Regions from separate parts of the Homo sapiens genome. Here all the other regions are linked to region 4. Evidence: fine-mapped expression QTL. A gene starts in region 4. Each other region holds a variant in brackets. All regions are shown on one strand. Distances are from middle to middle. Region 1 overlaps ATL2 (atlastin GTPase 2). Region 2 has its middle 95 kb from the start of ATL2. Region 3 overlaps ATL2 (atlastin GTPase 2). Region 4 holds the start of ATL2 (atlastin GTPase 2).

Region 1 (8,106 bases), 48 kb after region 4:
GAGACTTTCTTGGTTACGTTCCTGAACCTGTTGCCTGAAAATACTCTGTCCTTTGCAGCTTTTCCAGCTTTAAGTCCCAAATGTATGTATTGCCTCTTTTGCAGTATCATAAATATTATGGCACCCCTATCATCACATATTTCCATTTTGGATTTGAGAGAACATAAATTACAGATCTTTTTTCATTCCAAACTCTTTGTTCCAGTAGGTTACATTAACTGTTTCTAAAGTAACTGGTTTTATTTAGGCTATTTATTGAAAAATACCTCAAGCAACAAACTGTTACTCATAAACACTGACTACTCAACCACCAGTTTTAGAACATTTAGGGAGTTAAGCCATCTTGTATAATATAAGTTCCTTTTGTGTTAATACTAACTGTTTTTGGAGGAGACTTTTTTTTTAAGGTAATTAACTCCCTACCTCCTTCCCTCACTCTGCCAGGACAATTTTGCTATTTAGCTTGTACATTTTTTAAAAAATTATTTTAACTTTTTTAGAGATATCGTCTCGCTCTGTTGCCCAGGCTGGAGTGAAGAGGCACAATCACAGCTCACTGAAGCCTCAAACTCCTGGGCTCAGGTGATCGACCCTGAAGGGCCTCACTTTTTAGCCCAGCTTGGTCTCGAACTCCTGGGCTCAAGCAGTCCTCCTGTTTTGGCTTCCCAAAGTGCTGGGATTGTAGGTGTAAGCCACTGTGCGTGGCCCAGCTTATAAATTTTAGTTCAGAATTTCTTTTCTTTCTCTTTTTCTTTTTCTTTTCAGATCAAGTCTCACTCTGTTGCCCAGGCTGTCCTTGAACTCCTGGTCTCAAGCAATCCTCCTGCCTCAGCCTCCCAAGTAGCTGGGACTTACAAGACATGTGCCATTGAGCCTGGCTTCAGAATTTCTTTGTTCTCACAAATTTCTTTCCTTTAATAGGATACATTTTGTATAGATTGGAGAATGTATACCATAATTCTTTCATCAAGAAGCAAGTTCAAGGCATAAGATTTATGTCACATTGTACTAGTATATGGACAGTCAACAGAAACTTGAGTGGGCCATTCATTCTCCCCTGGACTCTGGTAGTGTTATACAAGTGGGTTTTGTGTGACTAGGAGTCTTTGTTGAACTTGTACACTAAAGGTATTTGATTTTTTGTTTTTCCTTTAACAGTGTTACTGAGATATAATTTACTTACCATATAAGTCATTCACTTAAAGTGTGCGGTTCAGTGGTTTTTAGTATATTCACAGAGTTGTGCAACTATTACCCCAATTAATTTAAAAATGTTTCCATTGGCGGGGCATGGTGGCTCGTGCCTGTAATCCCAGAACTCTGGGAGGCCGAGGTGGGAGGATTGCTTGAGCCCAGGAGTTTGAGACCAGTCTGGGCAACATAGGGAGACTCCATCTCTACAAAAATCAAAAAATTAGCCGAGCGTGGTGGTGTGTATCTGTAGTTCCAGCTACACAGGAGGCTAAGGCAGGAGGATGTCTTGAGCCCAGGAGGTTGAGGTTACAGTGAGCCCTGATTGTGCTATTGCACTCCAGTCTGGGAGAGAGCAAGTCACAGTCTCAAAAAGAAACAAAGTTTCCATCATCTCAAAATGAATCCCTGTGACAGCCCTTTGGCTGTTACCCCCAGATCCTTTCTCCAAACCCTCAACCTGAAGGAACCGCTAATCTATTTTCTGTCTCTGTGGACATTCATGTAAGTTGAATCTTAAAAAATGTGGTCTTTTGTGACTGGCTTCACTTAGCATAATGTTTTCAGGGTTCATCCATATTATAGCATGTATCAGTACTTTTTATGGCTGAATAATATTCTCTTGTGTGGATATACCACACTTTATCCATTCATCAGTTAATGGACAGTTGGTTTGTTTGCAATTTTATGACTATTAGGAATAATGCTATAATCATATTAATATATAATGTTAATTACATAAAATATATTTATATATGTATATGTCATAATAATGATGTGAAAGAGGGTTCTTCCTTCATTTTTTGGTTATGTATCTATTTGTCCCAGCACCATTTTTGGAAAGACTTTTCAACACTTCCACTATTGAATGCTCTTGATACCTTATTGAAAACCAGTTGATTATAGATATATGAATTTATTTCTTGACTCTCAGTTCTATTCCATTGATCTGTATACATGTTCTATTTTTTTTTTTTTTTTTTTGAGATGGAGTCTTGCTCTGTTGCCCAGGCTGGAGTGCAGTGGTGCGATCTTGGCTTACTGCAACGACCTCTGCCTCCTGGGTTGAAGCAGTTCTCCTGCTTCAGCCTTCCAAGTAGCTGGGACTACAGGCATGCGCTGCCATGCCCGGCTAATTTTTTTTTTTTTTTTTTTTTTTCTTGAGACAGAGTCTCACTCTGTTGCTAGGCTGGAGTGCAGTGGTTCAATCTCAGCTCACTGCAACTTCTGCCTCCCGGGTTTAAGTGATTCTCCTGCCTCCGCCTCCTGAGTAACTGGGACTACAGGTGTGCGCCACCATGCCCAGCTACTTTTTGTATTTTTAGTAGAGATCGAGTTTTACCATCGAGTTGGCCAGGATGGTCTCCATCTCTTGACCTCGTGATCCGCCCACCTCGGCCTCCCAAAGTGATGGGATTACAGGCATGAGCCACCACACCTGGCCAGTTTTTTTTTGTATGTTAGTAGAGACAGGGTTTCACCGTGTTGCCCAGGTTTGTCTCGAACTCCTGCGCTCAGGCAATCTGCCTGCCTCCCAAAGTGCTAGGATTACAGGCGTGAGCCACCACGCCCGGCCATGTCTTGTTCTTATACCAGTATCACGCTGTCTTCACTACTGTTGCTTTGTAGTAAATTTTGAAGTGAGGAAGTGAGTCCCATTTTGTTCTTTTTCAAGATTGTTTGGCTATTTTGGGTTCCTTGCAATCCCATATGAATTTTAGAATTAGCTTCTCAGTTTCTACAAGAAGTTAGCTGGGATTCTATCAGTGATTGGTTGAATCTGAAAGATCAATTTGGGAAATACTACTGTGTTAACAATATTAAGTCTAACAGTCCATGAATATGGGATATTTTTCCATTTATTTAGATCCAAACATTTTTTTATAGTTTTTGAGTATAAGTTTTGCACTTTTCTTCAATTTATTCCTTTTGTTGATGTTACTATGAATGGAATTGCTTTCTTAATTTCATTTTTGAATTGTTCATGCAAGTGTATAGTTCATATACTTGACTTGCATATTGATCTTGTATCCTTGAAACAAATTGAATTTGTTCATTAGTTCCAATAATTTTTTTAGCGGATTCCTTCGAGTTTTCTATATACAACATCATGTCATCTGCAAATGATGATTGTTTTACTTCTTTCTTTCTTACCTGGGAACCTTTTATTTCTGTGTCTTGGCTGATGGTCCCAGCTAGAACCTCTGGTAGTATTGAGTACAAGTGATAAATAATGAATATCCTTGTCTGTTTTCTAACCTAGTTTCTAGAAAGCACCTAGTTTCTCACTACTATGTTAGCTGTAGGATTTTTTGTAGATTTTTTTTTAATTGAAGTTTTTCTTTATTCCTAGTGTGCTGGGAGTTTTTTTTTTTTTTTTAAATCCTGAATGAATGTTGGATTTTGTCAAATAGTTTTCCTGTATTTATTGATATTATCATGTGTTTTTTTTTTCTTTCTTTTCTTTTTTGAGACAGTCTTGTTCTGTCACCCAGGCTGGAGTGCAGTGGCACAATCTCGGCTCACTGCAACCTCTGCTTCCTGGGTTTAAGCGATTCTCCTGCCTCAGCCTCCACAGTAGCTGGGATTACAGGTGCATACCACCGTGCCTGGCTAATTTTTGTATTTTTAGTAGAGATGGGGTTTTGCCATGTTGGCCAGCCTGGTCTTGAACTCCTGACCTCAGGTATTCTGCCCGACTTGGCCTCCCAAAGTGTTGGGATTACAGGCGTGAGCCACCATGCCCAGCTGATTTTTTTTCTTTAGACTATTGTTATGATGGATTACATTTATTGACTTTAAGTTGTTGAGCCAGCCTTGCATTCCTGGAGTAAATCCCACTTGATCATGGTGTGTAATTCTTTTTGTACATTGTTAGATTTGATTTGCTAATATTTTGTCAAGGATTTTTGCATTTATATTCAT[G/C]ATATATACTGGTCTGCAGTTTTCCTTTATTTGTAGTATCTTTGTCTGGTTTTGGTATTAGGGTAATACTTTGAATTAATTAGGAAGTATTCCCTCTGCTTATTTTCTAAAAGAATTTGTAGAGAACTGCTACCATTTCTTCCTTAAATGCTTGGTAGAGTTTTCCAGTGAAGTCAGTTGGGCTTTGTAAATCCTTCTTTTGGAAGGTTATTTATTGATCTTTTTTTTTTTTTTTTTTTTTTTTTTTTGGAGATGGAGTCTTGCTCTGTCTCCTAGGGTGCAGTGGCATGATCTTGGCCCACTGCACCCTCTGCCTCCTGAGTTCCAGCGATTCTCCTGCCTCAATCTCCTGGGTAGCTGGGATTACAGGCGCCCACCACCATGCCTGGCTAATTTTTGTATTTTTAGTAGAGATGGGGGTTTCACCATGTTGGCCAGGCTGGTCTTGAACTCCTGACCTCAGGTGATCTGCCCATCTCGGCCTCCCAAAGTGTTGGGATTACAGGCATGAGCTACCACGCCTGGCCTTTTTTTTTTTTTTTTTTTAAATAGATGATCTAGTTCTCCTTGTGTGAGTTTGGTAGTTTGTTTCTTTCCAAGAATTGCTCCATTTCAACTAAGTTACTAACTTTGTGGGCATAGAGTTCTTAGTATTCTTTTATTTTTTTAATGTTCAAGGAATTAGTAATGAAGATTCTTCTTTGATTTCTGATACTAGTTTGTCTTATCTTTTTTCTCCCCTCTCTCTTCAGTTAATTATATTGATCTTTTTGAAGGATCAGTTTTTTGTTTCACTGATTTGTTTTTTCTGTTGTGATTTTCTGTTTTCTTGTTTCAATTTCATCAGTTCTTGCTCTGATTTTATTCATCTTACTTTAGGTTTATATTGCTCTTCTTTTCCAGTTACCTGAGATGGCAGCTTAGAGTATTGGTTTTAGATCTTATTTTCTTTCCTACTGTATGCATCTAATGCTATAAATTCTGTAATCATGGTTTTTGCTGCATTTCATATATTTTAATAGGTAGTATTTTCATTTTCCTTTAGTTCAATATATTTTAAAATTTCTATTGAGATTTCCTTGACTCCTGTGTCATTTTGAGGTGAGTTGTTTTAAACTCCAACTATTTGGGGAGTTTTCCAGCTGTGTTTCTGTTACTGATTTCTAGTAATAGTTTAATTCTGTTGTGGTATGAGAGCATACTTTGTATTATCTATCCCTTAAAATTTTTAAAGGTGTATTTTAAGGCTCAGGATATGGTCTACCTTGGTGAATGTTCTTTGTGAGTTTGAGAAGAGTATGTATTGTGCTGTTGTTGGATGAAATATACTATAATGTCAGATCCATTTGATTGTTGATGCTGTTCAGCTCGACTATGTTATTGGATTTCTACTTGCTGGGTGTGTCAGCTACCTATAAAGAGGTGTGAGGTCTCCCAGTATAATAGTGGATTTGTCTGTTACTCTTTGGAGTTCAATTTTTGCTTCACATATTTTGGTGTAATGCAACTCTTAATCTTTGTTCTGAAGTGGTTTTTATGTTTCCTTATTTTGAAAACTGCTTTGTCTGTAATTAACATAGCTACTCTAGCTTTCTTTTGATTAGTGTTGGCATGGTATGTTTTTCCCATACCTTTACTTCTAACCTGTGTCTGTCTTTGTAAAGTGGAGTTTTTAAAATAGATAGCATATAGTTGGCTCTATTTTTTAAAAACCCACTGTGACAATTTCTTTTTTTGAGACAGAATCTTACTCTCTCACCCAGGCTGGAGTGCGGTGGCACAATCTCGGCTCACTGCAACCTCCGCCTCTCTGATTCAAATGGTTCTTCTGCCTTAGCCTCCTCAGTAGCTGGGATTACAGGCACCCGCCACCACGCCCCGCTAAGTTTTGTATTTTGAATAGAGACGGGGTTTCCCCATGTTGGCCAGACTGATCACGAACTCCTGACCTCAGGTGATCCACCCACCTCTGCCTCCCAAAGTGCTGGGATTACAGATGTGCACTGTGCCCGGCCAACAGTTTCTTTTAATTGGTGTATTTAGGTCATTCACATCTAAAGTGATTGTTGATATAATTGGATTTGTAGCTGCCATGCTTATAATTGTTTTCTGGTGTTTTTTTTTTTTTTTTGTACTTTTTTTTTTTTATATTCCCCTCTTTTTCTGCCTTCTCCAATTTTAATTGAACATTTTACTTGATTGCGTTTTCTGTACTCTCTTAATATATCTGTTAAACGTGTTTTTTGGTGGCTGCCTGGAGTTTGCAATGTACATTTACAACTAAGCTAAGTCCACTTTCAGATATTATACTGCTTCATGGATAGTGCAGTTACCTTAGCGTATTCCTAATTCCTCCTCTCTTTTATACATTGCTGTCATTTGTTTCCCTTATCTATATACTATAACCACCTAAAAGATTTTATTTTACCTTATTATCCTTCTCTGATACTCTTTCTCTTTATGTAGATTTGAGTTTCTGACCTATATCATTTTCCTTTTTGCTGACGTATTGGCGACAACATTCCTTGGTTTTTGGCTAAGAAAGTCTTTACTTCTTTTGTAGGATAACTTTACTGGATACAGAATTCTAGTTTGGTGGGGTTTTTTTTTCTTTTTTCCAGCTTTGTCAACATTTCACCCTATTTCCTTCCTGCTTGCATGATTTTTGTTTTGCTTTGTTTTTTGAGATGGAGCCTTGCTTTGTCGCCCAGGCTGGAGTGCAGTGGTGCGATCTTGGCTCACTGCAACCTCTGCCTTCTGGGTTCAAGTGATTCTCCTGCCTCAGCCTCCCAAGTACCTGGGACTACAGGTGTGTGCCACCACGCCTGGCTAATTTTTGTATTTTTAGTATAGATGGGGTTTTGCCGTATTGACCAGGCTGGTCTCGAACTCCAGACCTCAAGTGATCCACCTGCCTCGGCCTCCCCGAGTGCTGGGATTATAGCCATGAGTCACTGCTCCCAGCTGCTTGCATGATTTGTAATGGGAAGTCCAGTGTAATTCTTATCTTTGTTCCTCTGTAGGTAAAAGTGTTTTGTTCCTGGCTTCTTTCAAGATTTTCTTTTTGTGTTACTTTGCAGCTAGGCTATAATATATACCTAGTGTGGATTTTTTTGGTATTTATCCTGCTTGGTGTTCTGTCCTCTTCCTGGATCAATTTCCTATTTTCTAATTCTGAAATATATCATATCTGAGTCTGGTTCTGTTGTTTGCCTTGTCTTTTCAGTCTATTTTTTTCTTGCCTTTTGGCATGGCTTGTAATTTTTTGCTGAAAGCCAGACATGAAGTATCAGGTAATAAAGACTGAAGATTTAGGCTTCTATTATGAGGTTATATGTTAATCTAGTTGGGAGATGGGCTGTGTTTAACGTGTTTTTTAGCTGCAGGTCCTAGAGGCTTCAGTTTCTCCTTATTCTCTCACTGTCTTTGGGGTTTCCCAAGAACTTTTATTGAACTCAAAATCTGTGTCTTGCAGCTTTTTTATTTGTAATCCACTGTCATTATATTGGAGCATTGTTGATGAGGTGGTAAAGTGTAGGAGAGCAGAAGCATCGTATGCCACCTTATGGTTAAATCTTAGTTTTATTTTTATTCTTTTTTGAGACACAGTCTCCTTATGTTGCCCAGGCTGGTCTGGAACTCCTGAGCTCAGTCTCCTGAATAGCTGAGATTACAGGCAGACACCACTGCACCTGGCTCCTTAGTTTTTTAGTGGGCCTGAGTCCTGGTCTATGACCCTCTTTTTTTTTTTTTTTTTTTTTTTTTAAACAAACAAACAAACAAAACCTTAAACTAGACAGGAAGCCTAGATGGGGCTGGAGTTGGCTAATTTAATTGCTCCTCCCTAGGGTCAGATAAAGCTCTGGTAAAGTAGTTTTCTCAGGAGGGCAGGCTTTTGTTGTGGGGACTGGTGTGTGTGTGTGTGTGTGTGTGTGTGTGTGTGTGTGTGTGTGTGTGTGTGTGTGTGTGTGTACTGGTGTGTGTGTGTGT
Region 2 (8,106 bases), 95 kb after region 4:
TTTTTTTTTTTTTTTTGGCTGAGCACAGAGGACTTTATTGGTGGTACATGACAAGGTGGGGCTCCCTAGACCCCTCCCTCTTCAGGGGGTCTGGATGGAAACTGTGAGGAGGGGAGATTCTCAGTGTGGTAGGAGACCTAGTGCAATAGGGGATTCCTAGCAGCTGAGGGCCTGAGGCTGGTGGTCTGGGGGTCTTACTTCTTGGAGGCCATGTGGGCCATGAGGTCCACTGCCCTGTTGTTGTAGCCAAATGCATTGTCATAACAGGAAATGAGCTTGACAAAATGGTCATTGAGGGCAATACCAGCCCCATCATTGAAGGTGGAAGAGTGGGTGTCACTGTTAAAGCTGGAGGAGACAACGTGGTGCTCAGTGTAGTCCAGGATGCCCTTGAGGGGCCTCTGATGCCTGTTTCACCACCTTCTTGATGTCATCATATTTGGCAGGATTTTCCAGATGGCAGGTCAGATGCATGACCGACACATTGGTGGTGGGGACACGGAAGGCCATGCTAGTAATCTTCCCATTCATCTCGGGGATGACCTTGCCTACAGCTTTGGCAGCACCAGTAGATGCAGGGATGATGATCTGGAGAGCCCCGTGGCCATCACACCACAGTTTCCTGGAGGGTCCATCTACAGTCTTCTGGGTGGCAGTGATGGTGTGGGTCGTGGTCATGAGTCCTTCCACAATACCAAAGTTGTCATGGATGAGCTTGGCCAGGGAGGCTAAGAAGTTGGTGGTACAGGAGGCAATTGCTGATGATCTTGAGGCTGTTTTCATATTTCTTATGGTTCACGCCCATCATGAACATGGGGGCGTCAGCAGAGGGAGTAGAGATTATGACCCTTTTGGCTCCCTGCTGCAAGTGAGCCCCAGCCTTCTCTGTGGTGGTGAAGACACCGGTGGACACCCAAATGTACTCAGCGTCAACATTGTCCCATTTGATTTTGGTGGGATCTCGCTCCTGAAAGATGGTGATGAGATTTCCGTTAATGACAAGCTTCCCATTCTCAGCCTTGACAGTGCCATGGAATTTGCCATGGGTAGAACCACACTGGAACACGTAGACCATGTAGTTGAGGCCAGTGAAGGGGTCACTGATGGCAACAATATCCACTTTACCAGAGTTAAAAGCAGCCCTGGTGATCTGGTGCCCAATGTGGCCAAATCTGTTGACTCTGGCCTTCACCTTAACCATGGTATCTCAGGATGTGGCTGGTGCTACACGAGAAGATATGGCTGTCTGTCAAATGGGAGGAGCGGAGAGCCCTGACTAGAGTATCTTCAACTGCATTATCACAATTCTGAAATAGGTACTCAGCTGTCAACCCAAAATAAAATTCTAAGATGTCCCCCAACTATCTGAATGGACTTTGTCCTTGGCCAGTGCACTCTTAAAATTAAACCTGAAAGACCAGTTCAGGCCATGATAGGAAGTGGGGGTCGGACATGCCTCATTAAACCTCTCAGGCATTCACATCAACACAGACTTTAAGTCTGATAAGAAACGTTTTACAGCCTATTCTCTCTGAAGCCTGCTACCTGAAGACTTCCTCTGCAAATAAGAACTTTGGTCTCCACAATCTTTTATCTTAACCCAGACATTTCCTTTCTATTTATCCCAGGTCTTCAGATAAACTCAACCAATTGTCAGTCAGAAAATTTTTAAATCTACCTATAGCCTGGCAGATTTAAAAGGATGTTTAAAGACATTACTATGAAGATTTTCAAACATGAAAGTAGAGAGAATAGTGTAATGAAGTTTCATGTACCCATCACCCAGTTTAAATGGTTATCAGCACATACGCAGTCTGGTTTTATCTACACACTTCCATTCCCCCCATCTGAAGCTTGACTATTTTGAGGGAAATCCCAGGTATTATATCATTTCTCTCATAAATACTTCAGCATATATCAGTAACCACAATACCTTTATCCTAAAATAATAGATCATTACTTAATATCAAATATCCAGTCAGCATTCAAATTTCCCCAGTTGTCTCATGAATATCTTTGTTATCACCAATGTCCCTGACCATCCACTACAAGAGGTTGAACTTAGTATTCATGTGCGTTGCCACGTTGGGTGGCATGAGCTCTATGCATCACTGATTTTCTCAAAATTTAAGGGGGATCCATCTACCTTACCTCTTAATTCTTTACAAGTTGCACATCTAGCATGAATCATTTTAGGTTTCATTGACCAGGGCATGTTTTAGTACAAACAAATGAAAACACCCAGTACCTTCCTTCTACCTTCTCTTTCTCCTATCCCCCAAACAAAATTGCATTTCAGAATTAAAAGCTTTGTGTTCTTGAGATAGTTATCATTACAGTTGTAGGAACCTGAGGAAAGATTATGCTGTTGACTCAGTAACTTCCTGCTCTGAATCTGACTTCTTGCTCAGGCAGAATTTTTCAAGGTGAATGTAGAAAATGAAGTTGGAAGGGCCAAGGAAGAGGGCTGCAGTAGTGGTAGTAGCAGTAGTAGTAATACAGCAATTATAGAAACAGTCATTCATTCATTCATTCATTTGATCATTCAGTTTATTCATTCCACAAGTATTTATTAGGTACCATATGTCATGTATAAATACCAAATATTTATATGGTACCATATGTTGTATGCAGGAGGATAGCAGTTGTAGGAGCAGTAATTATTCATTTGATCAATTTATTCATTTCACAGATATTTATCAGGTACTAGTTACAGGCATTAGGGAAATGTCAAAGAATAAAAGAGACAAAAATGTCAGTCTTTGTAGAAAGTCAGGCAAAAATGTAATAAAGTAAATTCAGTGGTTTGTTAGAATGTGGTAAGTGCTATAGAAAAAAATAGAATAGGATGAGGAGTGCTGGGGGTGCGAGGGTTTACTATTTGAAATAGGATGGTGAGGGTAAGCATTCTTGAGAGGCAACATTTGAGCAAAGACTTGGAGGAGATGAAGCAATGAGCCATGCAAATATTTTGGGGAAGAGTATTCCAGAGAAAAGGAACAGGCATGCTAAGGCCTGCAGAATGAGTGTGGGTATCATGTTAAAAGGATAGGAAGGAGGTGAGTCTGACTAGGAGGGAATGAACAACGGGCAGAAAGTGATGAGATCGGGGAAGTATTAGGGGGCATGGCCTTGGAGGTCCTGTAGGCTGTTGAAAGGAATTGTTAGTAGGACGGAAACTGGGAACCATTAGGTCATGTTGAGCAAAAGAGTGACTGAAGTGGACTTAAATTTTGATTGGGTCATCTTGGCTATTGTGATGAGAATAGACTTGAGGGTAAGGAGGGGATAGAGTAGAAAAAGATTAATTAAGAAGTGACTGAAATAGTCCAGGTGCACGATAATAATGACCCTGGGTCACATGAAAAGAAGTAGACTTTGAATATATTTTGATGAATTGAGAAGTCATGATGTAAGTATTTCCTAGATATAAGTTACTTTGCCTGTAACGTTTCTAATTTTTACAACAGTGCTTGAAAGTTTTCAAAGATGAGGAAACTGAGGCTGAGAGTGGCAGGGCCAATTGTCCACAGGCGCACAGCTATGAAACTTTCCTATATGCATCAGCCTTCCTTGTTCTAACAGTGGAATGCATGCTAGATAATTTAAG[T/C]AGGAAGGGAAGCACAAAGGCTATTTGAAACCCACAGAAGTTTTAGAGAAGCTAGGCTTACCTTTTTGGAAAGCTCCCAGAACCATACCTCAAAATTGAGCATGTAAAAGAACTGGAGCCATAACATAGCCTCTGCCGTGGGTGGTGGAAACAGCTGCCATCACCACTGACTTCATCACCAGGCTGCCTTTGCTGCCCTTGAGCCAGTGAAATACCTGTCTTGGTCTTTCTCAGAAAACTGATTTTCATTTTTTTTTTGAGACAGAGTCTCACTCTGCCGCCGAGGCTGGAGTGCAGTGAGTGGCACAATCTCAGCTCACTGTAACTTCTGCCTCCCGGGTTCAAGTGATTCTCCTGCCTCAGACTCCCGAGTAGCTGGGACTACAGGTGCCTGCCACCATGCCTGGCTAATTTTTGTATTTTTAGTAGAGACAGGGTTTCACCATGTTGGCCAGGCTGGTCTCGAACTTCTGACCTCAGGTGATCGGCCTGCCTTGGCCTCCCAAAGTGCTGGGATTACAGGCATGATCCACTGCGCCTAGCCATAGAAAACTCATTTTCAAAATAAAGTCTTGTGTATGTATCTCTGATTGGTAGAAGCTAATACACCTGTTGATAGCCTAATTTCAATGCACTATATAAAAATTATTCTATATGAGGGATGAAGGATTAACACTTGGGGAGTGATTAAAGTGGGGAGAGTGTGTTTGAAAGACTCAAAGTAGGCTCAAATGACGGAGTTCCCTGCAGTTCACTTTCTGGCTGTGCAAGGTCAACATAGACCCTTACTCTATCTTCACATCTCCAACCTGAACAGCCATGCCACTATCCCTTATACAAAACATGCTACTCCCTCCTCAAAAGAGGAAGCCCCAGATCCCAATTTATTGCAGTTAGCTCTAAATTCAAGATTTTTGTTTGATGTTTACCATTCCATCTTTATATCCCGAAAATTATATATAAATTGTAAAAGTAACTGACCAATTATATAGAATAATTGGAGAAGGATGAAGGGGCATAAAAAGAATTAGTATACATACTTATATATTTAAAACCCACCAAGGAAGGAGAAAAATAAGGCCATAGTTGACCTTTACTTATCTCCTGTTCCCATTGCCCTTAGCCACACCTTTGGCTTTACCTGGTGGAGTGACCCAAACCTTTATTCTTGAGGGATTGGAGCCCTTGATGGTCCTCTACTTCTCTAGGGTTGCTCTAGTCCTTTGGTAACTTTCACCATTAAACAAGGCAGTATGAGAAGAGCCCTCAGAGGATCCCCTAATTTCCAAACATTCCTACCTGCCTGTTTCATGTAGTACAAATCCTATTTTCCCTTGATGCTCAGGATCAATGACCTCAGATAAAATGGTAACACTGCCCCTCCCCCCTGCCCCTACCCATTATTTGCTTGTTTAGTGATTTTGTGTAAGGAGCCTGAAATGGTGAGTGCCAGCCTCAACTGGTAGAAGCATTGCTCTGATGAAACATTTCTCTCTTGGACATTCATGTTTCTAAACTAGCAGAATCTAAAATCACAGGGATGGCAAACAAACATTTTGCAATTGGATCGAAAAATCTAAAGTGGAAGTTGTCACACTCACTTTTATTTATTGATACCCAGACATAAATTCTGGTTGTTGGCGAAATACCATTCGATTCCTGTTAACAGCATGTGTCCTGCACATGGTAGGACAACACCCAGTTTTACAAAGTGCTGTCTCTTGGCTGGTACTGGAGAGTTCAGAAGGCCATTCTGCCATTCTATAAAGTTACCTGCTTCACAGCAAAAGCATTCACTGGTCTTGCCATATATCCTGTGAGCACTGGCTTATTGCATTATTACTTTCGTTGTAAAATAAATTTCTTCATAAAAAGCACCTTTGGGGCTTGGCGCAGTGGCTCACGCCTGTAATCCCAGCACTTTGGGAGGCCAAGGCAGGCGGATCACCTGAGGTCAGGAGTTCGAGACCAGCCTGCCCAGCATGGTGAAAGCCCGTCTCTACTAAAAATACAAAAAAATTAGCCGGGCGTGGTGGCAGGAGCCTGTAATCCCAGCTACTCGGGAGACTAAGACAGGAGAACTGCTTGAACCCAGGAGGCAGTGGTTGCAGTGAGCTGAGATCGTGCCATTGCACTTCAGCCTGTGCGACAAGAGCCAGACTCTGTCTCAAAAATAAATAAATAAAAGCACCTTTGGGTGGAATATTATGGTCATGATTAAGGTATTTAGTATGTCTGCAAAGGATACCATGCAGGGGAATCTAATCCATAGCCAGAATGAGTGTCTCAGTGGAGAGAAATTGCAGCATTTCTGTGATGAAAGTGGTTCTTTGTAACCTTTTTTTTTTTTTCTTTTAGACAGAGTCTTGATCTCTTGCAAGGCTGGAGTGCAGTGGTGTGATCTCAGCTCACTGCAATCTCCGCCTCCCAGTTTCAAGCAATTCTCCTGCCTCAGCCTCCTGAGTAGCTGGGATTACAGGCGCACACCACCACAGCCAGCTAATTTTTGTATTTTTAGTAGAGATGGGGTTTCACTATGTTCATAGGCCAGGATGGTCTCGATCTCCTGACCTCAGGTGATCCGCTTGCCTTGGCCTCCCAAAGTGCTGGGATTACAGGTGTGAGCCACCGCGCCCGGCTCTTTGTAACCTTCTAACCAGATGCCAAACTAATCTCCTTGGGTTCCTGTACCGTACTGGAAGCTCAGAGTTGACAGATTGGGCTCTCAGCCATGGTCGTAGGCAGATTAGCTTCGGTGTGAAGTCTGTTTGCTGAGCCCAAGTGTCCCCTTCATTCCTCCTTCCATGATGACGGGGTTCCTGAAGCTATCAAGCAGGCACTGGAGTGGCTGGGGAGACAGTCTTTTACATTGTACTCAGGAATTCCTGACATCTCAACTTTATTTAGTGTAGGTCACTATTGAGTCCAGATTTTAGGACATAATTAGAATTATGTCCTAGGGCAAACCATTAGAACCTCTCCTAGTTTGCCTAATCATTTAACTTTGGAATCTCTAAAGTGAATTCTTGTTACAATGTAGCCCAATCTAGCATGATCTATCATCCACAGAATCCATTCTCACGAATAGTATTACTCAGGTTTTCTGAGTAAATAAGCAAAATTTGAAAAGCTTTTTTTTTTTTTTGGTTTTGGTATGTGTTTTCTCTAGGGTTCGACTTTGTAATTGGCCTCATGGGATAAATGGATATAATTATAGGTTTAGGTCCAGTAGAAATGACATGAGGAAAATTAGCATATCATTAAGGTAGCTATTACAGAGTCTTTAAGCAAGGTGGGGCTGGGTGCGGTGCCTCCTGCCTGGATTCCCAGCACTTTGGGAGGCCGAGGTGGGCGGATCACTTGAGGCCAAGAGTTTGAAACCAACCTGGCCACTGCACCCCAGCCTGGGCGACAGAGAGAGGCCCTGTCTCAAAAAAAAAAGAAAAAAAAAAGCAAGGTGGGATCAACTTTATCAAACAGAAGAAAAGCTGCTTCTCTCTCCAGAGCATCTCAGGGCATGCTCAGTGCTCCATCTGTCTCTACTCATTCACTTCCCCCAGTGTGAAATGCTCACGTTCTGTGTAGGTGATTCATATCTATGTCTCCCAAGGCTCAGCTTCTTCATGCCTGAGAGGTCAGGCCCATTTGATATTTCCCTTGTGTGGAGTCCTCTAGCCATTGTCTATGTCACATCCGTTGCTACTTACCTATATTCCCTTTAGTATTGCCCCACACATGCAAATTGTGTTGACTCCTCAGGTAAGCCTAGGCTGCTCCAACGAAGGTGCATAGATAGGGCCAGGCAACCCTCATCTCATTGTGCCTTGCTTTATTGTTCTTTGCATATATCACGCTTTTTTTTAAAATGGAAAATTTGTGGCAACCCCGCCTCAAGCAAGTCTATTGGTATCATGCTTCCAACAACATGTGCTCAGTCTGTGCCTCTGTTTCATTTTGGTAATTCTTGCAGTATTTCAAACATCTTCTTTATTATTATATCAGTTATGATCATCTCTGGTCAGTGATATTTGATGTTACTATTGTAATTGGGGCACTACAAACTGTGCCCAAAGAAGATGACAAACTTAATTGATACATGTTGTGTGTGTTCCGAATGTTCCAACCACTGGCCTTCCCCCATCACTCTCCCTCTCCTCAGGCTTCCCTTTTCCCTGAGACACAACAACATTGAAATTAGGCCAATTAATAACTCTACGATGACCTCTAAGTGTTCAAGTGATGAAGGGGTGGCCTGCCCCTCCACACCTGTGGGTGCTTCTTGTCAGGTGGACGAGAGACTTGAGAAAAGAAAGAGACACAGAGACAAAGTATAGAGAAAGAAAAGTGGGTCGAGGGGACCGGCGCTCAGCATACGGAGGACCCACACCAGCACCAGTCTGTGAGTTCCCTTAGTATTTATTGATCATTATCGGGCGTTTCTCGGAGAAGGGGATGTCGCAGGACAATAGGGTAATAGTGGAGAGAGGGTCAGCAGG
Region 3 (8,106 bases), 26 kb after region 4:
AGCACTTTGGGAGGGCGAGGTGGTGGGTGGATCATTGAGGTCAGGAGTTCAAGACCAGCCTGGCCAAAATGGTGAAACCTGTCTCTACTAAAAATACAAAAATTAGGCGTGGTGGTGCGTGCCTGTAATCCCAACTACTCAGGAGGCTGAGGCAGGAGAATTGCTTGTACCTGCAAGACGGGGGTTGCAGTGAGCCGAGATGGCACCACTGCACTCCAGCCTGGGTGACAGAGCGAGACTCAAAGAAAAAAAAAAAAAAAAGAACCAAACAAATGTGACTATGCATTTATCTGTTTTTCTTTTTAGTTCTCTGAATTTTTGCTTCGTGTATTTTGAGTTTCTTACTTGGCATTGTTATGTCTTTCTGATGAGTACACATTTTATATGTGGTATGCTTTTAGTCTTGAAGCCAGCTTTGATGTTTATGTAGCTACTTTAGCTTTCTTATGATTAATGTCTGTATAGTATACCTTTTCCCCTTTTACTTTGAAACTTTACTTGAACCAAGCTCTGTCTTTTTATTAAAAGGACATCTCTAATATACAGTATGGCCAGGCGCAGTGGCTCACGCCTGTAATCCCAGCACTTTGGGAGGCCGATGAGGGAGGTCAGAAGTTCAAGACCAGCCTGACCAATGTGATGAAACCCTGTCTCTACTAAAAATACAGAAGTTAGCTGGGCATGGTGGAGGGCGACTGTAATCTCAGCTACTCGGGAGGCTGAGACAGGAGAATTGCTTGAACCCAGGAGGCGGAGGTTGTAGTGAGCTGAGATCGTGCCATTGCACTCCAGCCTGGGCAACAAGAGCGAAACTCCATCTCAAAAACAACAAAGAAATACAGTATATAGTTTTGCTTTTATTACCCAGTCTGGCAGTCTCTGCGTTTTTATTGGAGTGTTTAGTGTATTTATATTTGATGTAATTATTGAATTTAGTTGGGTTTAAGGTTGCCATCTTGCGTGTTTTTCATTCATCTCTTTTGTCTTTTGTTCTTATTTTTTACTTTGGGTTCATTGAATATTTTTTACTATTTTATTTTGGTTTCTTATTGGCTTTTTTTGGTTTTTGTTTTTGAGAAAGAGTTTCGCTCTTCTTACCCAGGTTGGAGTGCAATGGCACAATCTCGGCTCACTGCAACCTCCGCCTCCTGGGTTAAAGGGATTCTCCTGCCTCAGCTTCCCGAGTAACTGGGATTACAGGGATGTGCCACCACACCTGGCTAATTTTTGTATTTTTAGTAGAGACAGGGTTTCTCCATGTTGGTCAGGCTGGTCTCGAACTCTCAACCTCAGGTGATTCTCCTGCCTTGGCCTTCCAAAGTGCTGGGATTACAGACGTGAGCCACCACACCTGGCCCCTTATTGGCTTTTTAAGCTATACCTTTTTTCTTTTTGTTTGTTTTAAAGCCGTTACTCTAGGGCTAATGATATTCATCTTTAATATATCTGCCTATTTAGAATCAATGTTTTACCACTTTCCACTTTAAAATCATAACCTTAGGGTGTAATTTCATTTACTTTGCCTCATAACATGTCTTTTAAAATTTTGTACTTCTACATACTTTATAAACCCCACATTGATCAATTATCTTTTAGGGAGATTAGTTGGAAGAAAGAACCAGTCTTTTATATTTGTATCTGTTTACTATTTTGGATTCAGATCAATAGGAAGGAATAAAGAGACTTTCCATTTGATAATGTTTCATTTCAGCCTGAAGAACATTATATAGCTCTCATGTAATGCACATCTGCTAATGACAGATACTCTTTGCTTTTTTTTGAGACAGAGTCTTGCTCTGTCGCCAGGTTGGAGTGCAGTGGCACGATCTTCGCTTACTGCAACCTCCCGGGTTCAAGTGATTCCTCTGCCTCAGCCTCCCAAGTAGCTGGGATTACAGGTGCGTGCCACCACGCCGGCTAATTTTTTGTATTTTCATAGAGACGGGGTTTCACCATGTTGGCCAGGATGGTCTCGATCTCCTGACCTCTCGTGATCTGCCCACCTTGGCCGCCCAAAGTGCTGGGATTACAGGCGTGAGCCACCGCACCCGGCCATACTTTTGCTTTTGCTGTCTTTATTTTGCTTTCATTTTTGAATGATCGTTTCACTGAATATAAAAGTCTAGGTTGACACTTCTTTTAAAAACACTCTAAAGCTATCAATCCCTTGTCTTCTGGCCTCCAGTGCTTCAGTGATGATGTGATAAGCAGCAGTTATTTGAATTATTCTGCTCTGTATAATTGTATAATTATTACATAACTATACAATAATTACTTGAATATTCTGCTCTGTGTCCTGTTATCTTTGGTTTTTGGTTTTTAGCAGTCTGGCTGATGTGGTTTTCTTTGTATTACCGTACTGGAGGTTTGCTGAGCTTTTTGGACCTGTAAATCTCTGTCATCAAATTTTGGTAACATTATGACTATTGCTTCTTCAAATATTTTTTCAGCTCCAGCCTCACTTTGTTCTCCTTCTGGGATTCTAAATGCAGGTTGGATAGTGTTCCATAGGTTCGTGAGACTCTCTTAGTTTTTCTTTATTCTTTTTTCTCTCTGTACTTCAGATTAGAAAATCTCTTTTGATCTCTTTGCAAGTTTACAAACTTTCTTCTGTTACCTACAGTCTGCTGTTGTCCATCCAGTGAGTATTTCATTTTAATTACTGTACTTGTCAGTTCTAGAATTTTCATTTGTTTTTTAATAGTTTCTATAGTTTTTTGGCTGAGACTCCTCATCTATTTATTTATTAAGACTTTATTTTCCTGTAAGTCCTTGAACGTATTTACAGTATCTGGTTAAAAGCATTTGTCTGCTAAATTCAGCATCTGGGTCATGGCAGAATTGGTACTGTTAACTGCTTTTCTTTCTTGACTATGGGCTACATTTCCTTCTTTCTTTGTATGTCTAGTAATTTCTGATTTATATACTGTATATTAAATGTTATGCATTGTAGAGATTTTGGATTCTCTTAGCTTGTTTTTGGTTTGGCAAGCAGGTTAATTACTGATGGATCTTGACCTTGGCTTTGCTTCATACTTCGTTAGTGTGGGTCTGTGGAAAGCTTAGAGGAAATCTCCCTAACTTAGTGGGACTAAATTTCCAAACTGTGTACCTTGCAGATCTTTTCAAGTCTTGGTTTTATTTAGGCTTTGATTGGATGGATTGTCAGTAGGCCTTACTCTAGAACTTGACCCTTAATTCTAAGATATGTCGATTCTAGTGTCTCAGCTTGATGCCTAAGGTATAGATGTTTCTTTCCACTCTGGCTGGGCCAGAACTCCAAAGTGTCTCAGTAATGTTTGACTTCTGTTTCTCTCTCAACCCTGTAGTAGCTTCCTTCTGTTAAGCATTGCATAGTGTTGTGTTCCCCTGCACCTGTGATGCTTGTTGTCCTTGTCCAAGGAGTTCTGGGCTCCACCTCTGCATAGATCCTTTTTCTCTGGTATCCTGCCTCACAGATTCCTACTGCTCTAGCAATCTTGAATTCAGATCTTTGTGCTCTAGTTCTTCACTCTATAGTTAGGAAATTGTTCCCAGGCAGAGAGCTGGGAGTGATCATGGCACTCACCTTGAAAGTGTCCTTGTGCTACTTGTTGTCCATTGCTTGAAAAACAATGCTTCATGTATTTTGTCTAATTTTATAGCCACGGTCGAGGGCCAGTCTGATACCAGTTACTCTAATGACTAGAAGTCTCAAATATCCTCCCTCCCCCAAATACCTGTGTTTTAAAAAATGCAAAATAGAATTGGGGGTGATTTTTACTACTTTGTAGTCTGCCCTTTTCCCACTTGATTTTATGGTGGTTTTTTTTTTTTTTTTTTTTTTTTTTTGGTTGTTGTTTTTGTTTGTTTTTGAAACAGAGTTTTGCTCTGTCGCCCAGGCTGGAGTGCAATGGCGCGATCTTGGCTCACTGCAGCCTCCACCCCTGGGTTCAAGCAATTCTCCTGCCTCAGCCTCCCGAGTAGCTGAGATTACAGGGGCCTGCCACCACACCCAGCTAATTTTTGTATTTTTAGTAGAGACAGAGTTTCATCATGTTGGCCAGGCTGGTCTCAAACTCCTGACCTTAGGTGATCTGACTTCCTCGGCCTCCCAGAGTGCTGGGATTACAGACGTGAGCCACTGCACCCGGCCAATTTTATGCTGTTTAAAATAATACATAGATTTTTTTGGCTAGGTGAGGTGGCTCACGCCTGTAATCCCAGCACTTTGGGAG[G/T]CGGAGGCGGGTGGATCGCCTGAGGTCAGCAGTCTGAGACCAGCCTGATCAAGGTGAAACCCCATCTCTAGTAAAAATACAAAAGAATTAGCCAGGCGTGGTGGCAGGTGCCTGTTGTCCCAGCTACTCTGGAGGCTGTGACAGAAGAATTGCTTGAACCTGGGAGGTGGAGGTTGTAGTGAGCCGAGATCGTGCCACTGCACTCCAGCCTGGGCAACAGAGCAAAACTCTGTCTCAAAAAAAAAAAAAAATTAAATATATATATGTATAATTTTTTTAGAGTGTAAATGTGTTTTTTAGGCTGCATAATATGTCAGTATATGGCTAAAATAACTGTTCGGCCACTTTCCAGTTTTGAGGTACGCAACATTAATTTTTGCCACCAGAATAAAATTAGTGTCCTTATTTCCTTATAATAAATCCCTAGAAATATATTTAACCATCGTATAACCTCTTTAAGGCTCTTAAAAAATATGTGCTAGAATAAACTTGAATACTTAGATACTGTTTTCACTTGGGTATGAAATATAAATGTTGAGGTTCAAGTACTAGGCACTAACACGTTACTTAGCTTTTGTGGGATAACTAATTTTTTTATAAGTAGACTGAATAGACTGAATCAAGGTTACTTTCCATGAAAATTTGTTTCAAGTTTTTGTTTGGAATGTGAATAATAAAATATACTTTTCATTCCTTTTGAAAGGTGAATTATTCTTTGTTCTCTTTTTATAAGTTTAGTTTTGGGTTGATGTAATCTAACATTAATGCTACATTTTATTATAATGAAGATTTGTAGCACTTTTTTATTATCTTAGTTTATAATTAAGCTTGAAATTTGCTGAGGATCTAGGTCAGCCCTGAAGTGTAAATTTTGCTGTTGGAATACATGCTGAGTGTCTGAATTTGGCAGATTTAAGATAATGTGTGATTAGACAACAAAAAGACAGGTGTCTTATTTAAATAGACTTTTTTGGTTTTTTTTTTTAGAGCAATTTTAGCTTCACAGCAATATGAAGCGAAATTGTAGTTCACGTACTCCCTGCCACTCCATATACACACTGTCCCCCGCCATCAGCGTTTCACCCACAGTGGTGCTTTTGTTAAAATCAATGAACCTTCACTAACACATCATTATCATCCAAAGTCTATAGTTTTACATTATGGTTCACTCTTGGGGTTGTATATTCAATGGTTTTTTTCATAGATGTATAATGACAGGTATCAACCAATTTCGTATTATAGAGAATAGTTTCACTGCCCTAAGAAATCTTCTGTGTTATGCCTGTTCATCCCTCCCTATCCCCCTAACCCCTGGCAATCACAGGTCCTTTTACTAAGACACCTTTCTTTTGTTAGGCCGTGTGGCAAATAGATATTAGGTAGGTACCTTAGTGTTAATGTGTGGAGAGATGTTTGAGAAGCAGGTGATCATCTTTAGGTGTCTTTTAGCTTTGACCTTGAAAGACCCATCTGGGGGCTAGCGTAGGGAAAACTGACTTGGAACTGTGAATCACAAAAATGTGTTGGGGGGCTGAAATCTACTTGTCTTAGTAAATTTTTGGCATTGAAGAATGGAAATAAAATCACTATTCTATACACAGGACGTAACTTCAGTTTAAAATCTTAGAGTGGTGTGGAATTTAGAGACTTTTAATTGTAGGCAATCACTAAATGCTAGTACAGTATTTACAGGTATCCTAATGAAATTTACATACAATTCTCTTTTATTCATTTGCTTATATCAGTGTTTGATGGAGTACTTTATCTGTATTTAGTCCATATTTGGTAGAGAAATCACCATGGGGAGTAAGTAGATAGATGCAGGTGTATCACATCATTGTTAGGCTCCATTATACTTTTGAAATCTATTTGCTACCCTTCTCTGTAAAAGGCTGTAGACTAGATATGGTGACAAATATGTAGACACATTCTGTCTATTTGAAAGGCCTGTCTTTGTCTGTGCTAATAAACTTGGTTGCATAGTGACTGGCCAACTAATATAGGTGAATTTTCGAGTTAACAAAGGTTTTCTGCCCAGTGGGGTTTTTTTTTTCCTATTTTATTTATTTTTTATTATTATACTTTAAGTTTTAGGGTACATGTGCACAATGTGCAGGTTAGTGACATATGTATACATGTGCCATGCTGGTGTGCTGCACCCATTAACTTGTCATTTAGCATTAGGTATACTCCTAATGCTATCCCTCCCCCCTCCCCCCACCCCACAACAGTCCCCAGAGTGTGATGTTCCCCTTCCTGTGTCCGTGTGTTCTCATTGTTCAGTTCCCATCTATGAGTGAGAACATGCGGTGTTTGGTTTTTTGTCCTTGCGATAGTTTACTGAGAATGATGATTTCCAATTTCATCCATGTCCCTACAAAGGACATGAACTCATCATTTTTTATGGCTGCATAGTATTCCATGGTGTATATGTGCCACATTTTCTTAATCCAGTCTATCATTGATGGACGTTTGGGTTGGTTCCAAGTCTTTGCTATTGTGAATAGTGCCACAACGAACATACGTGTGCATGTGTCTTTATAGCAGCATGATTTATAGTCCTTTGGGTATATACCCAGTAATGGGATGACTGGGTCAAATGGTATTTCTAGTTCTAGATCCCTGAGGAATCGCCACACTGACTTCCACAATGGTTGAACTAGTTTACAGTCCCACCAACAGTGTAAAAGTGTTCCTATTTCTCCACATCCTCTCCAGCACCTGTTGTTTCCTGACTTTTTAATGATCGCCATTCTAACTGGTGTGAGATGGTATCTCATTGTGGTTTTGATTTGCGTTTCTCTGATGGCCAGTGATGATGAGCATTTTTTCATGTGTGTTTTGGCTGCATAAATGTCTTCTTTTGAGAAGTGTCTGTTCATATCCTTTGCCCACTTTTTGATGGGGTTGTTTGTTTTTTTCTTGTGAATTTGTTTGAGTTCATTGTAGATTCTGGATATTAGCCCTTTGTCAGATGAGTAGGTTGCGAAAATTTTCTCCCATTTTGTAGGTTGCCTGTTCACTCTGATGGTAGTTTCTTTTGCTGTGCAGAAGCTCTTTAGTTTAATTAGATACCATTTGTCAATTTTGGCTTTTGGGTTTTTTTTTTTTCTTAAACTTCTAAAAAACCAACTAATGCTTTCTTTACAATAAGAGCAAAACTATTGTTTGTTTTAGCAAAATCACCAACCTCCACACTTGGTCATTGTGATATTTTAGCAGTTATTACTTTTGAGTTCTTTTTTAAAGTGTTTTACTTGGTTCATAATTTTTTTTTTTTTGAGATGGAGTTTCGCTCTTGTTGCCCAGGCTGGAGTGCAATGGCGCAATCTTGGCTCACCGCAACCTCCGTTTCCTGGGTTCAAGCAATTCTCCTCCCTCAGCCTCCTGAGTATCTGGGATTACAGGCAAGCAACACCACTCCTGGCTAATTTTGTATTTTTAGTAGAGATGGGGTTTCTCCATGTTGGTCAGGCTGGCCTTAAACTCCTGACTTTAGGTGATCCGCCCTCCTCAGCCTCCCAAATTGTTGGGATTACAGGCGTGAGCCACCGCGCCTAGCCAAGCTTCATAATTTTTATGGAATTTTTGTGTTACGTATACTTAATACTCTTGAGTTGTCGGAGGTATTTCCCCAAGCTATTTGATTATCATATTTGCTTATAAACTAGGTAAGGGCAGGGCCAGGCATAGTGGCTCATGCCTGTAATCCTAGTACTTTGGGAGGCTGAGATGGGTGGATCACCTGAGGTCAGGAGTTTGAGTCCAGCCTGGCCAACATGGGGAAACCTTGTCTCTACTAAAAATACAAAAATTAGCTTGGCGAGGCATTGGGCATCTGTTGTTCCAGCTACTCTGGAGGCTGAGACAGGAGAATGGCTTGAACCCA
Region 4 (8,106 bases):
ATGAATGGCTGTGCCAGAGAGGTATGCGCCCATGTCCAGGCTCCTACAACAAATATTAGCCACAGAAACCCTTGATTTTTTTTTCTTTTCTTTTTTTTTTTTTTTTTCCGAGATGGAGTCTTGCTTTGTTGCCCAGGCTGGAGTGCAGCGGTGGGATCTCGGCTCACTGCAACCTCCACCTCCTGGGTTCAAGTAATTCTCCTGCCTCAGCCTCCTGTGTAACTGGGATTACAGGCACCATGCCTGGCTAATTGTTGTATTCTTAGTAGAGACAGGGTTTCACCACGTTGGCCAGGCCAGGTCTTGAATTCTTGACCTTGTGATCCGCGCCCCCCCACCCCGCCCTCGACCTCCCAAAATGTTGGGATTATAGGCGTGAGCCACTGCACCTGGCAATTCTTGATGTTCTTAATTTAATCTCCTTTAGAAGGTCTATCCCAATGACCCTGAATCACTAGCTTTGGATATAAATAAAATTTTTCTGCCAGTCAATAACCCAGAGTCCCTATTCTATTCTCTTCTATTTACTTACTTTTCAAGTACAAACATAAAGCCAAGACTAGAGTCCATTTTCTTGTCCACATCTACTCTAGCAGGAACTCCGATTTCCCTCTGTCCCTACAAAATATTTCCTCCCTGGCCCCTCCCCCAAAGGAAGCCTCGCCTGTGGCAAATCGGTTCATTAGCCACAGTCACTGTACAACTTCTGGGACAAATCAATGGTCTGTACCCCTCAGGTCAACGAACGGAGCCTACAGAGTCCATCATGAGAATATTGGCGACTGAGTCAAGCTCGTTGCTCTGTAGTACCTCCAGTGCTTCAGGTCTGTGAGGAAAATTTCCTAGCCCTGTTCTGCTTTTTGTAACCTGGCCCTGAAGCAGCTCTGCCTGCGTCCAGAATTTCACATAGTCTCAGAGAAACAACTTCTTCATTTCTGTCAACCATTCTTGCACAAGAAAAGGAGCAACAGTTTGCAAGCATGGTGTAGCTTAAACAAAACTTTCAGGAAACGCATCACTGAAAAGATAACAAGGTCTGCAGAGATGCAGTTTGCCCACAACAAAGACAGCCTTTTTCATTCTCGGAGAGTGTAGTTTATCTCATTTCAGCCTCAGCAATATCCAACACCTTTTCTATTGACAACACTGCTTTATATTTGTCTTTGGCTTCTCTCTACTCTAACCTTGCCCCGTCCATCTGATATCACCCCAGGCAAGTGAGTGGTTTCCACTAATGGATATCTAAATCTCTACCTCTCACAGGGAGGAACTTTCCTTTTATCTTTTTTCTTTTTTTGCCACCCAGGCTGGAGTGCAGTGGTGTGATCTTGGCTCACTGCAGCCTCGACCTCATGGGCTCAAGCAATCCTCCCACTTTGGCCTCCTCCATAGCTGGGACTACAGGTGCGTGCCTGGCTAATTTTCGTATTTTTTGTAGAGACAGGCTCTCATTATGTTGCCCAGGTTGGTGTCAAACTCCTTAGCTCAAGGGATCCACCCACCTTGGCCTCCCAAAGTGCTGGGACTATAGGCATGAGCCACCGCGCCTGGCCCATTCCTTCTATCTTACACCATCTCCATGAAGGTTAAAATGATTGTAGGGCAAGTTCTTGTCAGTTCTCATATTCTCAGTACCCCGTGCTTTCCCATAGAAGAGTTATAAGACGGAATGTCTCCCTGAGAGGTGGCAAGGAAAAATTTTCCTTAGGAATCACTGACTTTTTTCCGGACAGCAAAAAATTAATTAATTAATTCTTTTTTTTTTTGAGCTGGTGGTGTTAAGCAGCAGTCTTTTTTGAATGGTATTGCTCCTTGCGGAGTAGGGCTAACTCACAGGCAGTGTACCCAGGGTCAGCCTATTTTTTTTTTTTTTTGAGATGGAGTCTCACGCTGTCATCCAGGCTGGAGTGCAATGGCACGATCTCAGCTCACGGCAACCTCCACCTCCCAGGTTCAAGTGATTCTCCCACCTCAGCCTCCCGAGTAGCTGGGATTACAGGCACCCGCCATCATGCCAAGTTAATTTTGGTATTTTTGTGGAGATGGGGTTTCACCATGTTGGCCAGGCTAGTCTTGAACTGCTGACCTCAGGTGATCGCCCCACCTCGGCCTCCCAAAGTGCTGGGATTACAGGCATGAGCCACCACACCCAGCCTTTTTTTTTTTTTTTTAAATAAGCGTTTGACCTCTCTTGATTCAGGCATAGTAACCACAGATGGGGGAGAGAGTGGGTTTGGGAGCCAAGATAGGCAGAACACCAAAAAGAGAAGAACATAGGCAAGGAAAAAAAAAAGAAAAGAAAAGAGAAAAGCAAAGCAAAACACGAAACACATGGGGTAGCAGCCTAGATTAGTAGATAGAATTGAAGTCCTTAAAATCGAAGGCACAGTGAGGGAAACCATAAGGTCTTTTATTACATGTAAGATATTCAATATCTTCCAAAGGACTGCCTATACTAAGCATAGAGGGTGATTTGGCTTAGGTGAACACTGCACTTTGGTAAGGATTCAGGTAGCTTTTTGTTGTCACTGACTGTATCAACCTTAATTTAGCAAATGGCCTATGCTGTGCTGTTTGTAAATGGTTTCTTTTTTCTATGTGCCTAAGCAAATGTTTTTTAGTGAGTAAATGACAGTAAATAAATCTTTGTAGAACAATCCTCGTGAAGATTTTTTTGCCCTTCTTCTCCTCCTCCTCCTCCTTCTTCTGCTTCTGCTTCTTCTTTTTCTTCCTTTTCAATACTACGTTTTTCAGGCCAATGATAAAACAGAAAATGTCTTGACAAAGTGAGCTCTCCAAATCATATATCACAAGGACGTAAGAGGAATATCACTTAACAAGTTGATAAAGATCCTGCCATCAATATGAACGAGGGGGAAGGGTAACTGTACTTTAGATTGTGGAGGTGGTTCAAGTCCCAGAACTAGAATCTTAGTAACTCAAAGAATATTGCCAAGAACACGTATATAGTTATTCTCCTAGATTTATGTGACAATGATGACAAACTCCATATTCTGTTGAAATATATTTGGATGGGCCGGGCGCAGTGGCTCACGCCTGTAATCCCAGCACTTTGGGAGGCTGAGGCGGGTGGATCACGAGGTCAGTAGCTCAAGACCAGCCTGGCCAAGATGGTGAAATCCCGTGTCTATAAAAATACAAAAATTAGCAGGGTGTGGTGGCGGGGGACTGTAATCCCAGCTACTCCGGAGGCTGAGGCAGAGAATTGCTTGAACCCGGGAGGCGTGAGCCACCATGCCCTACCTAGAATGGTATTTTGAAAGCTTTAATAACACCAGTGCTTTTCTAGAGATTGTGCATGCTGTGAATTTTAGACTTATGAAAAGACCTGGACAAAACAGCTGTTTGTACACCCGGACATCTGTTTTTACTGGAGAAGAGGAATTTCTAATGCAGCTGGCAGTATGGTAAAAATCCAAAGGGATCATGTTTCACAGACGCCTCCACGGGCTGACTTGTAATTTAAAAAGTGACCTGAACTTTCTACTGGATGTCACTGGATCCCCAGAAGAAGGTTCATCACAATTAGGTAAGAACCTGCCACGATTCATTTTCCGATTAGAGTGCTTTCTGGCATGCCTCTGCAAGGTGCTAGGAGCACAGGGCCAGGGTATACACAGTTGAGAAGATGGGGGAAGGTCTCATAAGTAGATGGGGAGCGAATGCAAACAAACCTTAGGATGGTGGGGGGGAGGGGAAGCAACAGTAGGGACTTGGGTGAGGAAAGAAAAGATCAAGAGGAAAAGCAGGGCACTGGCAACAACTTGGGGGGTGGATGGGGAGAGAGGAGGGGAATGGCTGTGATGAGGAGGGGGCGATGAAAAGGAGAGAAGGGGTGCGAAAGCCACCTCACGTGCAGGACGCACGAATCAACGATTAGAGATGTAAAGCGAATTGGGAGGGAGGGACTTAGTTCTCTGGAGCTCCCTTCTGCGTTTGCAGAGCCTGGCCCAGCGCTAAGGGGGTGTGGTGCTGAGCTCAGGGAGGTGGGGGTGTGAGACGGCGGCGGCAGGGACACCCCCGCCCCAGTCCAACCAGAAACTTGGAGCCGGGGAGACGGATCTGCAGGCGGGCAGGGCGAGGGCGGAGCGAGCGAGCGATGGGCGGGGCGGGGGCGGAGGGAGGGCGAGGAGATACAGGCGGAGGGCGAGGAGATACAGGCGGAGGGCGAGGAGATACAGGCGGAGAGCGGCGCTAGGACCCGCCGGCCACCCCGCCGGCTCCCGGGAGGTTGATAAAGCGGCGGCGGCGTTTGACGTCAGTGGGGAGTTAATTTTAAATCGGTACAAGATGGCGGAGGGGGACGAGGCAGCGCGAGGGCAGCAACCGCACCAGGGGCTGTGGCGCCGGCGACGGACCAGCGACCCAAGCGCCGCGGTTAACCACGTCTCGTCCACGACCTCCCTAGGTACGGGCCAGCGAGGCAGAGGCCGCGGGGCCCTGATGGGGAGAGACGCTCGCTGCTCGGGCTCGCGGGCACCGGCCGCAGGCGGCGGGGTCGGAGTCCGCGGCTGGTTCAGGTCTCCTCCCGCCGCCGCGCCTGCCCGCCGGGCCTAGCCTCAGCCGCGCCCCGCGCTCCCGCAGCGCGCGGCCTGAAAGGGCGGCTCGTGGGCCGCGGCTCCAGTAGCTGCTGGGAGAACCAGTGGCGCGCGCGTCTGCGACCGGCCCGGCCCCCTGCCCGCCAGCCCGCCGCGTGGCTGCCGCCGTGTCCGCCCCGACCTTAGGGGGCGGCCTTGAGCCGTGGCCGCCTGCCCGGGGCGCGGGGAGGTCGGCTGCGGCTCCGCTCCGTCCGGCGAGCTCCGGACGCGGCGGGGCGACCCGTTAGCTGGTGGGCGTTCGCTGTCCCTTACGCGGACAGGGAGGAAGGGGTGGCCAGGGCATGATGGGCCCCGCGGAGGAGGAGGTCGCGCGGGGAGCAGACACCTTGCTGCCGGGTCCGAAAGCTCCTTAGACACCCTTCCTGGAGGGAACCGCAGTCCGCAGGCCAGGGCTCTGTCCCCGGGCTCGCGTTTCGGGGCTCCTCGGCTCCCGAACCCATTCGCGCGGGTTGTGCGTGGCTAGGGTGCAAGTCTAGATTTTCGTGTCAAACTGGGGTTATGAGCCGTTTACGAGTCACTTGGACGATAGTAAGGCCTGATCACTCTGAAAGTGTCTGTAGTGTGAAGTCACCTGATCCTTGGCTCCCTGGTTTTGCTGAATGTGAGCTCCTACTGTACGTGTACCAGGAGCGCCCCTGCCCCCTCGAAGACGCAGTTGCGTTGGCAGCGCAGTGTATCCCTCTCACTCATAACACCCCTATTTATAGGAGTTTAGCGTTTGATCTCTCACTGTGGTGCGAATTGATCGCATGAAATCCTGATTGAAAATTTTGATGGTACTTAAGAAAGGCATAAAGTTTTTTCAAAGGCTTATAAATAGTAAAAGCCTACGATTTGGTAAGTACGGCCAAGATAAGAGTTTATTATTAAATACAGATACGAGCTCGTGTCTTAAGATTTCTTTTTTTACGGTGTGTAAAGGTTTTGCTGGATAAAATGTAAAGCATTTTGGTATGATGTTAACCACAAGGACTCACTTTAATAGGAAAGTTTATTTGAAATATACTTCATCATTCCTGGTAGTTCTTGGCGCATGTCAGAGGTGATGACAGACTGGAGTTTTGCTAAGGGAAGAAGAAAAGGAAATAAAGCTTATTTTATTATTGTCTGCCAACCAAAACGCTTGACTGTTTGTACAGTGGTAGCACTCTGTAGAATAAAAAACTACCAAAGAAGCAGCTTCGCCTTAGATGTGTGCTGGTTGGATTTCTTAAGTAATTAATTGTTTTGGAATGCGGATGGATTAATTTCGCTCTTTTGGTTGGACCCTAGGGGAAGAAGTGTGTGTTCTTTTCTTTCTTTCTCTTTCTTTCTTTCCTTTTTTTGAGGTAAGAGTTTTAGATGCAGTTTCAAAATATTCTATGTATTTACCTTATTAGAAGAAACATAAATTTATACTTCAGTTATGGTTGTGAACGTTGTTGTGCTGTGGTATCTTGAGAAGAGATGATACTCTTCAGATTGTTGTTGAAATAGGGCCCACCATTTATTATTTAATAAATGCTTTTGTCTGCTACTCATAGGTTTTTGTCCTTTGTTTTTTAGGACGGATCAGCAAGACCTTCACTTGATAGCCATTCCTAGCAAATGATTGCCTAAAACAGTCCCTGTACCTGCTAATTTGCTCCGAGTCACTCATTAATGAGTTAAAAACTAAATGAGCTTGGTAGGATTTGTGTTTAAAGTGAGAAGAAACAGACTGAATGAAAAGGACTCATCTATTTTTGACTGTGTAGAAACTCTTTGTCTCCCTCTGCTTCCTGGAGAAATAGCTTCAAAAACCAAGTTGGGGTCAAGTGTCACTTGAGTAGTTTAGTGTTAGGGAGAGGCTTTGTGTTTATTCTTTTAGGAATGTAGGATCTTTAGAAAGCAAATAAGTACTCATTTTATTGGCTTTTTAAGTTGATAGGATTCTGTAGATATGATTAAATCTATTTAGTAAAGTGTTTTGAAATTCTTCGAAATTATTTAGGGAGAAGTAGCTGCCTTACAGTAAAGATATTATAGGGAAAAGAAACCCTGAGTGAAAATAAGATTATGGCCTTAAGTCGAGTGCACATAGGTGTATTTCAGGATTCGTTTTTCTGTGACTGTATTGTAACTTTAAAGTTTTGGAATATTCACAAGTATAAGTAACTTTCTTGAAATTGTTAGACCTTTTCCAAAATTAGGCTTTTTCCACAGTTGGTATTAGGCAGCTAGCTGCTAAGAGTACGGGGAGACTGATTAACTAGTTTGATAATGCTGGATGGAGTTCAACATATATTTTTTAAATTTTGGGACTTCATAGCAAGATGTATTAAAAAATTGTTGATGGTCATTTGGAAGACCTGTTTGACACACACAATTGTCAGCAAAGCTGTTTGTCAGGCCCTTAAAAAGTTAAGAGCCAGAAATGTAAGGCATAGGAGTAGAAGTTAAACTTTTTGGTAATGGTGGTTTAGAGCTTTACAGCGCAAAGATTTTCTCCAGATAGGTGCAGGGAAGCAGCTTTCTTCTTTTCTTTCTTGTTTTTAACGTGTAATGGTATTCTGATTTTGTAGACATTTTGGGTTTTCAAAGTCCAGGTGTATTATTTACTTTCTAGAAAATTTGAGAGTTATTTACTTTAAGGAATGTAGATGTGAACATAGAATAACTGAACTTGATTCCACAGTGAATTCATTACTTTAGTAGTTTTCTTCCTATCCGTTAGTCCTCCACACAGCACATGATACACAACACTCGAGGGCTTTCTCTATGGCTTTAAAAATGGATAGCAGGCTGAGTGCGGTGGCTCACGCCTGTAATCCCAGCACTTTTCGGAGGCCGAGGCAGGTGGATCACCTGAGGTCAGGAGTTCGAGACCAGCCTGACCAACATGGAGAAACCCCCTCTCTACTAAAAATGCAAAATTAGCTGGGTGTGGTGGCGCATGGCTGTAATCCCAGCTATTTAGGAGGCTGAGGCAGGAGAATCGCTTGAACCTGGGAGGTGGAGGTTGCCGTGAGCCGAGATCATGCCATTGCACTCCAGCCTGGGCAACAAGAGCGAAACTCTGTCTCCCCCATAAAAAGGATAGCAGGAAGAAAGTACCAACCTGAAAATATGATGGCAATAGGATAATACTTGGTAGATATTATAGAAAGAAGTAGAACAATTAGTAAAGGAAGTAGAACAATTCTGTTTGTTATGGTCATGGAGAAGCATGAAGTATTCAGAAGTGCAAAGCCAAAATAACTTTTACAGATGATTTTCCAAGTTATGGAACGTGTCTCTGTGTGCTTGGGTATATACACATATTGCTAAACTTGGATACAGTTTTTTAAAAATGTGTGTATTTAAGTAGCCACCTTCACTACCTACTCTGAGACAAATGGCTGTGTGGTGTATGGTCGGATGATAGTTACTAGAAACAACTTTTAAGTCATAAAAGACTAACATCCTCTGTTTTCCCAAGGAGATAATATGTACTTTTGATTGACCTTGGATTTGGTCTTCGGACCAG

Evidence for each region. PIP is the estimated chance that this variant, and not a neighbour inherited with it, causes the effect.
Region 1: its variant is fine-mapped to the expression of ATL2 in whole blood (TOPMed, PIP above 0.99).
Region 2: its variant is fine-mapped to the expression of ATL2 in whole blood (TOPMed, PIP above 0.99).
Region 3: its variant is fine-mapped to the expression of ATL2 in whole blood (INTERVAL, PIP above 0.99).

What each region holds. Positions count from the first base shown.
Region 1 is chr2:38,325,682-38,333,787 of GRCh38, reverse strand. The region is part of intron 2 of ATL2 (atlastin GTPase 2); the gene reads left to right. Among named protein-coding and RNA genes, the nearest start is that of ATL2, 48 kb to the left of the region's middle. The variant G/C (reference allele first, on the strand shown) is at 4,117.
Region 2 is chr2:38,278,505-38,286,610 of GRCh38, reverse strand. It overlaps the pseudogene GAPDHP25. Among named protein-coding and RNA genes, the nearest start is that of ATL2, 95 kb to the left of the region's middle. RefSeq lists an enhancer at 7,593-8,106. The variant T/C (reference allele first, on the strand shown) is at 3,611.
Region 3 is chr2:38,347,859-38,355,964 of GRCh38, reverse strand. The region is part of intron 1 of ATL2 (atlastin GTPase 2); the gene reads left to right. Among named protein-coding and RNA genes, the nearest start is that of ATL2, 25 kb to the left of the region's middle. RefSeq lists enhancers at 1,441-1,940, 1,941-2,442, 3,915-4,415. The variant G/T (reference allele first, on the strand shown) is at 4,218.
Region 4 is chr2:38,373,466-38,381,571 of GRCh38, reverse strand. It overlaps ATL2 (atlastin GTPase 2), which reads left to right and starts at 4,299. Exons shown (of 13, transcript NM_001135673.4): 1 at 4,299-4,429. The coding sequence starts at 4,312. RefSeq lists silencers at 3,880-3,929, 4,000-4,159, 4,380-4,879 and enhancers at 4,130-4,379, 4,206-4,705, 4,706-5,207.